4 separate regions of the Homo sapiens genome follow, and all the other regions are linked to region 2. The links come from fine-mapping of genetic effects on gene expression. A gene starts in region 2. Each other region holds a variant in brackets. All regions are shown on one strand. Distances are from middle to middle. Region 1 has its middle 8.6 kb from the start of FCGR3B. Region 2 holds the start of HSPA6 (heat shock protein family A (Hsp70) member 6). Region 3 has its middle 10 kb from the start of FCGR3A. Region 4 has its middle 20 kb from the start of TRL-CAA6-1.

What was found. PIP is the estimated chance that this variant, and not a neighbour inherited with it, causes the effect. A credible set is the group of variants that fine-mapping cannot tell apart.
Region 1: its variant is the best candidate, but not a certain one, in a credible set for the expression of HSPA6 in monocytes after interferon gamma (Fairfax 2014, PIP 0.58).
Region 3: its variant is the best candidate, but not a certain one, in a credible set for the expression of HSPA6 in whole blood (INTERVAL, PIP 0.68).
Region 4: its variant is the best candidate, but not a certain one, in a credible set for the expression of HSPA6 in neutrophils (BLUEPRINT, PIP 0.57).

What each region holds. Positions count from the first base shown.
Region 1 is chr1:161,638,430-161,641,036 of GRCh38, forward strand. No RefSeq gene overlaps it. Among named protein-coding and RNA genes, the nearest start is that of FCGR3B, 8.6 kb to the left of the region's middle. RefSeq lists a silencer at 1-121. The variant T/G (reference allele first, on the strand shown) is at 1,538.
Region 2 is chr1:161,523,030-161,525,529 of GRCh38, forward strand. HSPA6 (heat shock protein family A (Hsp70) member 6) reads left to right here and starts at 1,511. Exons shown (of 1, transcript NM_002155.5): 1 at 1,511-2,500. The coding sequence starts at 1,630. It overlaps TRG-GCC2-1 (tRNA-Gly (anticodon GCC) 2-1), which reads right to left and starts at 888; the gene lies at 818-888. It also overlaps a transcript of FCGR2A not described here and the pseudogene TRD-GTC10-1.
Region 3 is chr1:161,558,657-161,561,415 of GRCh38, forward strand. No RefSeq gene overlaps it. Among named protein-coding and RNA genes, the nearest start is that of FCGR3A, 10 kb to the left of the region's middle. The variant T/A (reference allele first, on the strand shown) is at 1,211.
Region 4 is chr1:161,591,014-161,593,772 of GRCh38, forward strand. It overlaps the pseudogene FCGR2C. Among named protein-coding and RNA genes, the nearest start is that of TRL-CAA6-1, 20 kb to the right of the region's middle. RefSeq lists a silencer at 1,696-1,902. The variant C/T (reference allele first, on the strand shown) is at 1,310.

The DNA.
Region 1 (2,607 bases), 120 kb after region 2:
ATGCCACAGCTGATCTGACAGGAGGAGGAGCTCAGGCGGTGATGTGAGCCATGGGGATCTACTGTAAATACAGATAAAGCTTTGCTCCCCACCTGCCCCTCACTTCCTGCTGTGCAGCCCAGTTCCTAAGAGGTCACTGACAACTACAAATCTGGGGATTGGGACTTCTGCTCGAATTCAATTGAATTCCAACACTATCTAACTGGAAATAGCATCAGGTGACACAAGTGAAGGGCTCAGTCTCACAAGACACTTCTGATATTGCAGGGTGAAGCCCCAGGTTGTTTTATCTGTGCTTTTGACCAACCAGTTATAAATGGGGGTTCCCACCACCTGCATCTTGGGTTCAATTAATTTGCTAGAGTGGCTCTCAGTACTCAGGGAAACATTTACATTTATCAGTTTGTGATAAAGAATATTACAAAGGACACAAGTAAAGAGTACATAGGGCAAGACCTGTGGGAAGGGGCTTGGAGCTTCCATGCCCTCTGGTGCACTACCCTCCAAGAACCTCTCTGTGTTCGGCTCTCTGGAGGATCTCCAAACCCTGTCCTTTTGGGTTTTTATGGGAGCTTTATTACTTAGGAATGATTAATTAAATCATTGGCTATTGGTGATCAATTCAACCTTCAGCCCCTCTCCACTTCCCAGAGGGAGTTTGGAGGGTGGAGCTGAAAGCCCCAATCCTCTGACCTTGCCATGATCTTTCTTGTGCCCAGCCCCTGTTATGAAGCTACCTAAGAGCTGCCAGCCATCAGTTACCTCATTAGCACACCAAAAGACATCACTTTGGAGATTCTAAGGATTTTAGGAGTTGTATGCCAGGAAAAAGGATGAAGACTGTATAAAGGACCCTTGACATAACTAACTCCATCTTAGAAAAAGACTCCATTTTATATTTCATAGGGCATTTGGCCAACAAGATAAAATGTTCTAAGAAACAAATTAAAAATGATAAAGACTGCAGCCGACCAAATAAGGCCACAGACAAGCACACTCTTCCAACTTTCAGTTCTTATCACAGGACTCCATGACTAAAAGAGAAGGCCTTCAGCAGCTTGAAATGGCTATCTTAGCTGACACTGTCTTGCAGTCACTCATGATGATAATTTGGCATCTGCCACTGAAGGCTCTGCCACCTCAGACTCTTCTTTGCAAGACCAACGGGTAGCCAGGCCCAGACCAGGACTCCTTTGGTCTTCTTAGATCCTCATCAACAGGCTTATTAACCCTTTCTCCTGTCTCTTTTCCCTCTTGATGTTAAATAGTACTTAGTTTGTTGTGGAACGTTTAACCTATAACATTTATGTAAATGTTATAGGTAGAGAGGATTGCCATATTTGGGAGAGAGGGTCTCTCTCTCTCTCTCCCACTGGACGTGAACAAGGGCTCATTTTGTCCTAAGGTCTTGCTGGCAGCTATCCTTAAGACTTTATAACATTTAGGAGCTATACAGCTTCTCTTTCTGCTGTATTCTAATCACCAGAAGTTATAAGCCCACCCAGATTCAAGGGTAGAGGATGTAGGCCTCATTTCT[T/G]GATGGAGAGAGTGTCAAAGAATTTGCAGCCGTGTTTTAGTGCTGCCACAACTAGCTACTCTAATACACTTTAAAGATTTCTTGATTCTTCGGTGGTGTGATTAGAGTAAAATCCTGAAAAATAGAAAGGCCTGGGGGAAGGGGAGACTGTAAGATCTAGGGAAGGGAAAATTTTTTATCCTATTCTAAGAACAATCACAGGAAGAAGGGAGGTAGTTGGTACTAACTAGAAAGAAGCAAGTCAGACAGACATTATCCATTCATCCCCTCCCAGGTCCAAGAGTTTGCTTACGATTATAAACAGCAAGAAGACTGTATTTCGTGATGCTCTCTTAGCTCAGGGCTACAGAGCAATGCTGTTGTATGTAGGAAAGAATGATTTCTTGAACTTGAATCCACAGTAGGTTCTGAGTTTTTTCCAACTCAACAATTGCTATGCTCAGTTAACTCAACAAATAGAATATGATGTACTAGCCTGATATCCATCCCTCTCCCTCCCTTCTAATATAACCTTGATTCTATTCAGGAATCACCCTCATATGCAGAGGTGGATCTTGACTGATCTAAGCCACTCAGGGTGTAGCATTCCCCTGGCTTTTATTGGTTAAGTGGGAGAAGACGGAACTTTGTCCTAAATAGGGCCAATCTGGTAGAGGGGAGTGCCATGTTTGGGAGAGATGATCTCTCTCTCCCACTGTACATGAACAAGGGCTCATTTTGTCCTAGGTTCTGCTGGCAAAACCTAAGATTTTGAAGGCAGCCAGTCTGAGGTCAATGCCAAAAAATCAAGGAGGACAGAGTGGAGGGATAGAATATGGTCTTGGTGACATCACTGAGCTTCTAACGCAACCAACCCAGATTTCTTACAATTTCAAGTAAATTTCCCTGCTGTTTAAGCCAATTTAAGTCAGGGCTTGTTACCTTCATCCAAAGGCATCCTAGTGAATACCTTGGTATTTACTGAGTACCTACTAAAAGGATAAGAAACTCTTTTTCTGGAAGGAGCTAATAATGAACAGGGGAGGAAACTTGACATTTAATGAAGAAGAAAGAAATGCTGACATGGAGAC
Region 2 (2,500 bases):
AATCAGGCAAGTAACGTTAAATAGAAGCCAACTTTTAAGTTTCTCTAACACACTGCTAAATTGTAACACCAGACTGTACCACATACTCTCCAGCTGCCAGCTATTGCAGTTGCCATCCTTGTTACTATAGTGGTGAGTATCTCTGCCTGTCATGCGTGAGAGAGGGGGTCGATTCCCCGACGGGGAGGTCACGGGAAATTGTGTGAGGATTTTGTCAACCTTCAGAAGTCTCAGAAATGTCTCCTTGTTTTGGCTTTCAGCGGAAATCCGAACGCCAGCAGATCTGAATGGAATGTTCTGGATTGAAGAAAGTGGGAAATGGCCTCAATTCACAAAGTCACAACCTGATAAAAACCAGTGTGACTTTACTGCCCAGTGAACCCATCTCGTCCTCCAGCCTTTAGGAGGTAGGTTGGACTGGAGCCTGCAGTAGTTTACTCTCCACCTGAGTCCTGGTCTCCAGCTGGGAACCCACTTAGGCCATAAAGAAAAACGCACACTGTGCCTCTCCACCGGGCCTCTGGAGACGAGGCTCCTCGGGGATACAAACAGTGGGGAGAACATGAGGGACATCCCGACCGTACTCTGCGTCCTCCTTTCCCAGGTGTTGCGTTCTCTCTTGGGCTGAGTGGCGAGGTCTCTCCCGAGTCCCAGGGCCACAGTGCAATGTCACATCTCCTTTGTGGAAAGTGACTGGTAAAGGAGAGAGAACAAAACTGGAGGAATGTAAAGTCTTCAGCCACCTGGTTTAATTTATTCAAGAGTGATTAATCCTAGATGAGAAAAAGAATTGAAATGGATCGGAAAAAAATGAAAGTGCATTGGCCGGGAATCGAACCCGGGCCTCCCGCGTGGCAGGCGAGAATTCTACCACTGAACCACCAATGCTACTGTCAGCTAAAGACCTGCAGTATTGTCTCTTAAAGCTCACTATCTCTGGCCATTCACTAAGGAACCAGGCACCGTCTTAAATCGCGGTTTGGAAAATATTTTGTTCAAGATAAAACTGTTTTAAGATATACGTGTATATATCTTATATATCTGTATTCGCATGGTAACATATCTTCGGCCTTCCTGAGCCGCTGGGCTCTCAGCGGCCCTCCAAGGCAGCCCGCAGGCCCCTGTGTGCCTCAGGGATCCGACCTCCCACAGCCCCGGGGAGACCTTGCCTCTAAAGTTGCTGCTTTTGCAGCCTCTGCCACAACCGCGCGTCCTCAGAGCCAGCCCGGAGGAGCTAGAACCTTCCCCGCATTTCTTTCAGCAGCCTGAGTCAGAGGCGGGCTGGCCTGGCGTAGCCGCCCAGCCTCGCGGCTCATGCCCCGATCTGCCCGAACCTTCTCCCGGGGTCAGCGCCGCGCCGCGCCACCCGGCTGAGTCAGCCCGGGCGGGCGAGAGGCTCTCAACTGGGCGGGAAGGTGCGGGAAGGTGCGGAAAGGTTCGCGAAAGTTCGCGGCGGCGGGGGTCGGGTGAGGCGCAAAAGGATAAAAAGCCGGTGGAAGCGGAGCTGAGCAGATCCGAGCCGGGCTGGCTGCAGAGAAACCGCAGGGAGAGCCTCACTGCTGAGCGCCCCTCGACGGCGGAGCGGCAGCAGCCTCCGTGGCCTCCAGCATCCGACAAGAAGCTTCAGCCATGCAGGCCCCACGGGAGCTCGCGGTGGGCATCGACCTGGGCACCACCTACTCGTGCGTGGGCGTGTTTCAGCAGGGCCGCGTGGAGATCCTGGCCAACGACCAGGGCAACCGCACCACGCCCAGCTACGTGGCCTTCACCGACACCGAGCGGCTGGTCGGGGACGCGGCCAAGAGCCAGGCGGCCCTGAACCCCCACAACACCGTGTTCGATGCCAAGCGGCTGATCGGGCGCAAGTTCGCGGACACCACGGTGCAGTCGGACATGAAGCACTGGCCCTTCCGGGTGGTGAGCGAGGGCGGCAAGCCCAAGGTGCGCGTATGCTACCGCGGGGAGGACAAGACGTTCTACCCCGAGGAGATCTCGTCCATGGTGCTGAGCAAGATGAAGGAGACGGCCGAGGCGTACCTGGGCCAGCCCGTGAAGCACGCAGTGATCACCGTGCCCGCCTATTTCAATGACTCGCAGCGCCAGGCCACCAAGGACGCGGGGGCCATCGCGGGGCTCAACGTGTTGCGGATCATCAATGAGCCCACGGCAGCTGCCATCGCCTATGGGCTGGACCGGCGGGGCGCGGGAGAGCGCAACGTGCTCATTTTTGACCTGGGTGGGGGCACCTTCGATGTGTCGGTTCTCTCCATTGACGCTGGTGTCTTTGAGGTGAAAGCCACTGCTGGAGATACCCACCTGGGAGGAGAGGACTTCGACAACCGGCTCGTGAACCACTTCATGGAAGAATTCCGGCGGAAGCATGGGAAGGACCTGAGCGGGAACAAGCGTGCCCTGCGCAGGCTGCGCACAGCCTGTGAGCGCGCCAAGCGCACCCTGTCCTCCAGCACCCAGGCCACCCTGGAGATAGACTCCCTGTTCG
Region 3 (2,759 bases), 36 kb after region 2:
GTGCTGCCACAACTAGCTACTCTAATACACTTTAAAGATTTCTTGATTCTTCGGTGGTGTGATTAGAGTAAAATCCTGAAAAATAGAAAGGCCTGGGGGAAGGGGAGACTGTAAGATCTAGGGAAGGGAAGATTTTTTATCCTATTCTAAGAACAATCACAGGAAGAAGGGAGGTAGTTGGTACTAACTAGAAAGAAGCAAGTCAGACAGACATTATCCATTCATCCCCTCCCAGGTCCAAGAGTTTGCTTACGATTATAAACAGCAAGAAGACTGTATTTCGTGATGCTCTCTTAGCTCAGGGCTACAGAGCAATGCTGTTGTATGTAGGAAAGAATGATTTCTTGAACTTGAATCCACAGTAGGTTCTGAGTTTTTTCCAACTCAACAATTGCTATGACTCAGTTAACTCAACAAATAGAATATGATGTACTAGCCTGATATCCATCCCTCTCCCTCCCTTCTAATATAACCTTGATTCTATTCAGGAATCACCCTCATATGCAGAGGTGGATCTTGACTGATCTAAGCCACTCAGGGTGTAGCATTCCCCTGGCTTTTATTGGTTAAGTGGGAGAAGACGGAACTTTGTCCTAAATAGGGCCAATCTGGTAGAGGGGAGTGCCATGTTTGGGAGAGATGATCTCTCTCTCCCACTGTACATGAACAAGGGCTCATTTTGTCCTAGGTTCTGCTGGCAAAACCTAAGATTTTGAAGGCAGCCAGTCTGAGGTCAATGCCAAATAGCCAAGGAGGACAGAGTGGAGGGATAGAATATGGTCTTGGTGACATCACTGAGCTTCTAACGCAACCAACCCAGATTTCTTACAATTTCAAGTAAATTTCCCTGCTGTTTAAGCCAATTTAAGTCAGGGCTTGTTACCTTCATCCAAAGGCATCCTAGTGAATACCTTGGTATTTACTGAGTACCTACTAAAAAGATAAGAAACTCTCTTTCTGGAAGGAGCTAATAATGAACAGGGGAGGAAACTTGACATTTAATGAAGAAGAAAGAAATGCTGACCTGGAGACCAGGAGCTCTAGACCTAGCTATGTCACCCAGGGTGACCACCGATTAAATTGTCTAGATCTCAGTCTCTACAATCATGAAATGAGAAAGTGGAGTGTGGACTGTATGTTTGCTAAGATCTCCTCTGGCTAAATTACTGTGTCTTAATGTCAACTAGAGGAAATATGATGCCCCCACTTT[T/A]TTTTTTTTTTTTTTTGGTAAGCATCAGTGGTCCACAAAGAATTTAACAATTGGTACCAACAGAGAGGCAAAAAATACCTTTTTTTTTTTAGACAAAGCCTCACTCTGTCGCCAAGGCTGGAGTGCAGTGGCATGATCTCGGCTCACTGCAATCTCTGCCTCCCGGGTACAAGCGATTCTCCTGTCTCAGCCTCCCAAGTAGCTGGGATTACAGGCATATGCCCCCATGCCCAGCTAATTTTTGTATTTTTAGTAGACACGGGTTTTCGCCATGTTGGCCAGGCTGGTCTCGAACTCCTGACCTCAGGTGATCCACCCATCTCGGCCTCCCAAAGTGCTGGGATTACAGGTGTGAGCCACTGGGCCTGGCCAAGAAGGAATATAATTGCCTTTTAAGAAAATATTCTGCTTGCTTTCTTTTTTAGAGATGAGGTCTCACTGTGTCAGCCAGGCTGGATTAAAAAACTCCTGGACTCAAGCAGTCCTTCTGCCTCAGCCTCCTGAGTAGCCAGCACTACTGCCTGGCTTCTACTTGCTTATTTTAATATTAATAACAAAATATAGTAAGCTCTGAGCTTTAAATACAATAGATATCAAAATTATTTAATAAAAAATATTCATGGTCCCAGCATGGTGGCTCATACCTGTAATCCCAGCACATTGGGAGGCTGAGGCAGGAGCATTGCTTGAGGCCAGGAGTTCAACACCAGTCTGGGCAACCTGGCAAAACCCCATCTCTTAAAAAAATTCAAAATAAGCCAGGCCTGGGGCTACATGCCTGTGGTCCCAGCTACTTGGGAGGCTGAGGCGGGAGGATCACTTGAGCCTGGGAAGTGGAGGTTGCAGTGAACTGTGATCGTGCAACTGCACTCCAGCCTGGGCAACAGAGCGATACCCCGTCTCAAAACAAAACAAAACAAAATATTCACCATTATGTGTCTAGTAAAGTGAAGAAAAGAAATAGGAAAGGAAACTGTCAATATAAAAGAAAAGGGAGGAGAACAGGCAGAGTTAGAGACATAAAGACACAAAATGGGATGGGACTTAGAGGAAAACCAGTGAGAGAAAACTCAGAAAGACACAGTTACTGGGACAGTAAAAAACAAAACAAAACAAAAACCCACAAAAAACTGAGAGAGACACCCAGGTTTTCAAATATGGTGTCTTAAAAATAGATAGAAAATGCATGAAGAGCAAGGCATCTACTGAGAGGTCTGGAAACAGACACACCTCGAGATACATCATACAAAGGCAGTCATGGGACAAGGAGAGAACACTTTCACAAAACCAGGAAGAGATAGACAGACAACAAGGGAAAAAAAGCACATGGGATTGAAGCAGATTTTGTGGGATGACCTTAAGCTGCACCTGTTTTCTTTGGCTGTGGTTATTAAAATAATATGACCTGTTGACATACAAGAACTTTCTAAAATTTTATGCTATAGCCAAGAGTGAGTTTTAAATGCCCTGCCTTGTGCTATCTCACATCAGAACATGCTTAGATGCCTCCCAGACTTGCAAGTTTTTAAAGTTTCAAAAAGAGAGTGAT
Region 4 (2,759 bases), 68 kb after region 2:
AGTCCAGGACTGTCTGATTTCAGACCTAAGCTGTTCCCTCTGCACATCATGTCCCACCAGTAAGGAAGATCTGGGTCTCAGAGCTGAGCCAAGACCTCCCGGGTCCTCTGGGGTTTTCTGTGTCTTTCAGAGTGGCTGGTGCTCCAGACCCCTCACCTGGAGTTCCAGGAGGGAGAAACCATCGTGCTGAGGTGCCACAGCTGGAAGGACAAGCCTCTGGTCAAGGTCACATTCTTCCAGAATGGAAAATCCAAGAAATTTTCCCGTTCGGATCCCAACTTCTCCATCCCACAAGCAAACCACAGTCACAGTGGTGATTACCACTGCACAGGAAACATAGGCTACACGCTGTACTCATCCAAGCCTGTGACCATCACTGTCCAAGGTATGAGGAGTCTGCCAAGATGTAGGGAGGGGAGAAGAGGGGATGGACAAGGGCTGAGGTCACATGGGCCTACATGGAGGTCTGAGAAAGGCCACAGCACAAAATTGGGCACTGGAGCAAAGAGGAGTGGTGTGGAGGCCTGGCTAAGTATTGACCAATGAGCAGGAGTAGGGGCCAGAGCTTGGAGCCCTCAGGTGATAGGTGACCAGGCTGTTGTTCCACTTTGAAATGCAGGCCCCAGACTAAGGACGGCAGCGAAGCAGAGCTCCCTCGTTGGTGCAGAGGTTCCCTAAGCTCCTGGGCATTCGTAAGAACTGAGGTTTGCCTTTATTCTTCTCATGGCTCATGTTATAGCCATTCACTCCAGAAAGCCTGGCACGTCATGGACTGTTCAAGGCTGTGCTCCATAGAGTAATGATGCCTCCAGCTATGCGAGGCTTTGGGCCCACCCTTCCCACTGCCCCTGAGGGCTAAGGGGAGCCCTTCCTTCTGCTCCTGCCTGCTCACCAGTGTGCCTTTATTAGTTCGGTGGAGAAACCTCGGTAGGCAGGAGGCATAAGTCCAGCCACAGAAACCCTGTGCAGATGAGGCTGGGGATGTAGTGAGTGCTGCAGAAGTGAGTGACTCAGACACAGAAGAGCTTCGGGTGACAAGCACTAGGACATAGCATTGGATGGGGGGGAGGTGGGACAAGGAGAGTACTGCCTGTCCTGATGTCTGTCTTCCCTAGCTCCCAGCTCTTCACCGATGGGGATCATTGTGGCTGTGGTCACTGGGATTGCTGTAGCGGCCATTGTTGCTGCTGTAGTGGCCTTGATCTACTGCAGGAAAAAGCGGATTTCAGGTTTGTAGCTCCTCCCGGTCCCTTTGGTTATCAGTTTCCACTTGGCCCAGGCCCTAACCCCAGACATTGCCAGAATCCCT[C/T]TCTTTGGGCTAGATACACATTCAGATCTAGGCCCGTATTGTATTATAGTCATTCATTCGTTTATTAGATCATTCATTTGACAAGACTTGAACAAACTAGCTTATGTGTCAGCCAATGCGTGAGACATGGTGGGTGATGCCAAGAGAAGTCCAGTCCCTGCCCTTGGGGAGTTCTCAGCATTGTGAGGAAGACAGGGTCATTATAATAAGATGGGATAAGAGCAATGATAGGGACATGAAAAGCCTAGGATAGAAGTACAGAGGAGGCTCCATAGCCCAACAAGGGCTGACGCAGTTGGAGAAGTTCTCAGGGAGAGCAGTGTAGTGTAGTGATGGAGTGCACATAGTGGGGCCAGACTGCCTGGGTTCAAATCTAGTTCTACAGCATACCAACTATATGACCCAAGTGAGTCACTCCACCTCTCTGTGCCTCAGCTGTCTCATGTGGAAAATGGGGACACTAACAGGACTTACCTCACAGGGTTGCCATGGGGATGAAAGAGGCTGATGCTCTTACACAGTGCCTGGTAGGCAGTAACAGCACACAAACAGGGCTGTTGCCATTCTGGAGGAGGTGGTGTGTGAGGGCAGCGCTTAGCTAGGGAAGGAGGACCCTCCAGGCACTGGGCCAAGGCAGGGATTGAAGCCGGGTGGGGCTCATATGGGTGTCGAAGGGGGAGAAGAGAGGGTACTGCAAGCCACCAAGAAAGAAAGAATCCCGCTAACACCTCACAAAGCACTTTTCAATTGGTTCATAGCCAACACCTCAGTTACTGATGATAAGTAAATACAGAGAAACAGAGAGAGAGAGACTGAGACACAGGGGTGTTTTTAAAAGGCAGAGCAAGCCTCAGACAGATGCCATGGCGTGGCCTTTCTGACACTCCTGGGCATCCCCATGGGTGAGCTGAATTCTGCCTCTGGACTAGCCCTTTTCCAGGCGGGAGCGGCCCCTGAGCAGGGGAGCTGGGGGTGGGAGGACAGGAAACATCTGCCAGAGGGAAGGCCTGAGCTGGTCCCATCCAACCCTGGCCCTGGTCCTTGGTCCTGAGGACTCAGGCCCCACCGCCTAATCCTACTAACCTCCTGTGTGCCCCTCCCAGCTCTCTCAGGATACCCTGAGTGCAGGGAAATGGGAGAGACCCTCCCTGAGAAACCAGGTGAGTACAGGTTGTCTCAGGGATTCAGTGATGGCTCACCAGGGCTGCCGGCTGGACTGCAGCCAGCGAGAAGGGGCTTGTGCGAGTTCAGCTGGGAGCCAGGGAGGGAGCAGCGGTGGGAGGATGGCCGGGGCTCAAATCGCTTGGTTAGCTCTGAGTCTAACTCCTGGGCCTAAAGATGACCTCTCTGGAGATGAGAAGAGAAACACCAGTCCCAGATACAGAGGAGAGGGCTGTGTCCGAATTTCTGGTACCAGGAATCTGATGATATTTCCAGAGCAAGAAATCAG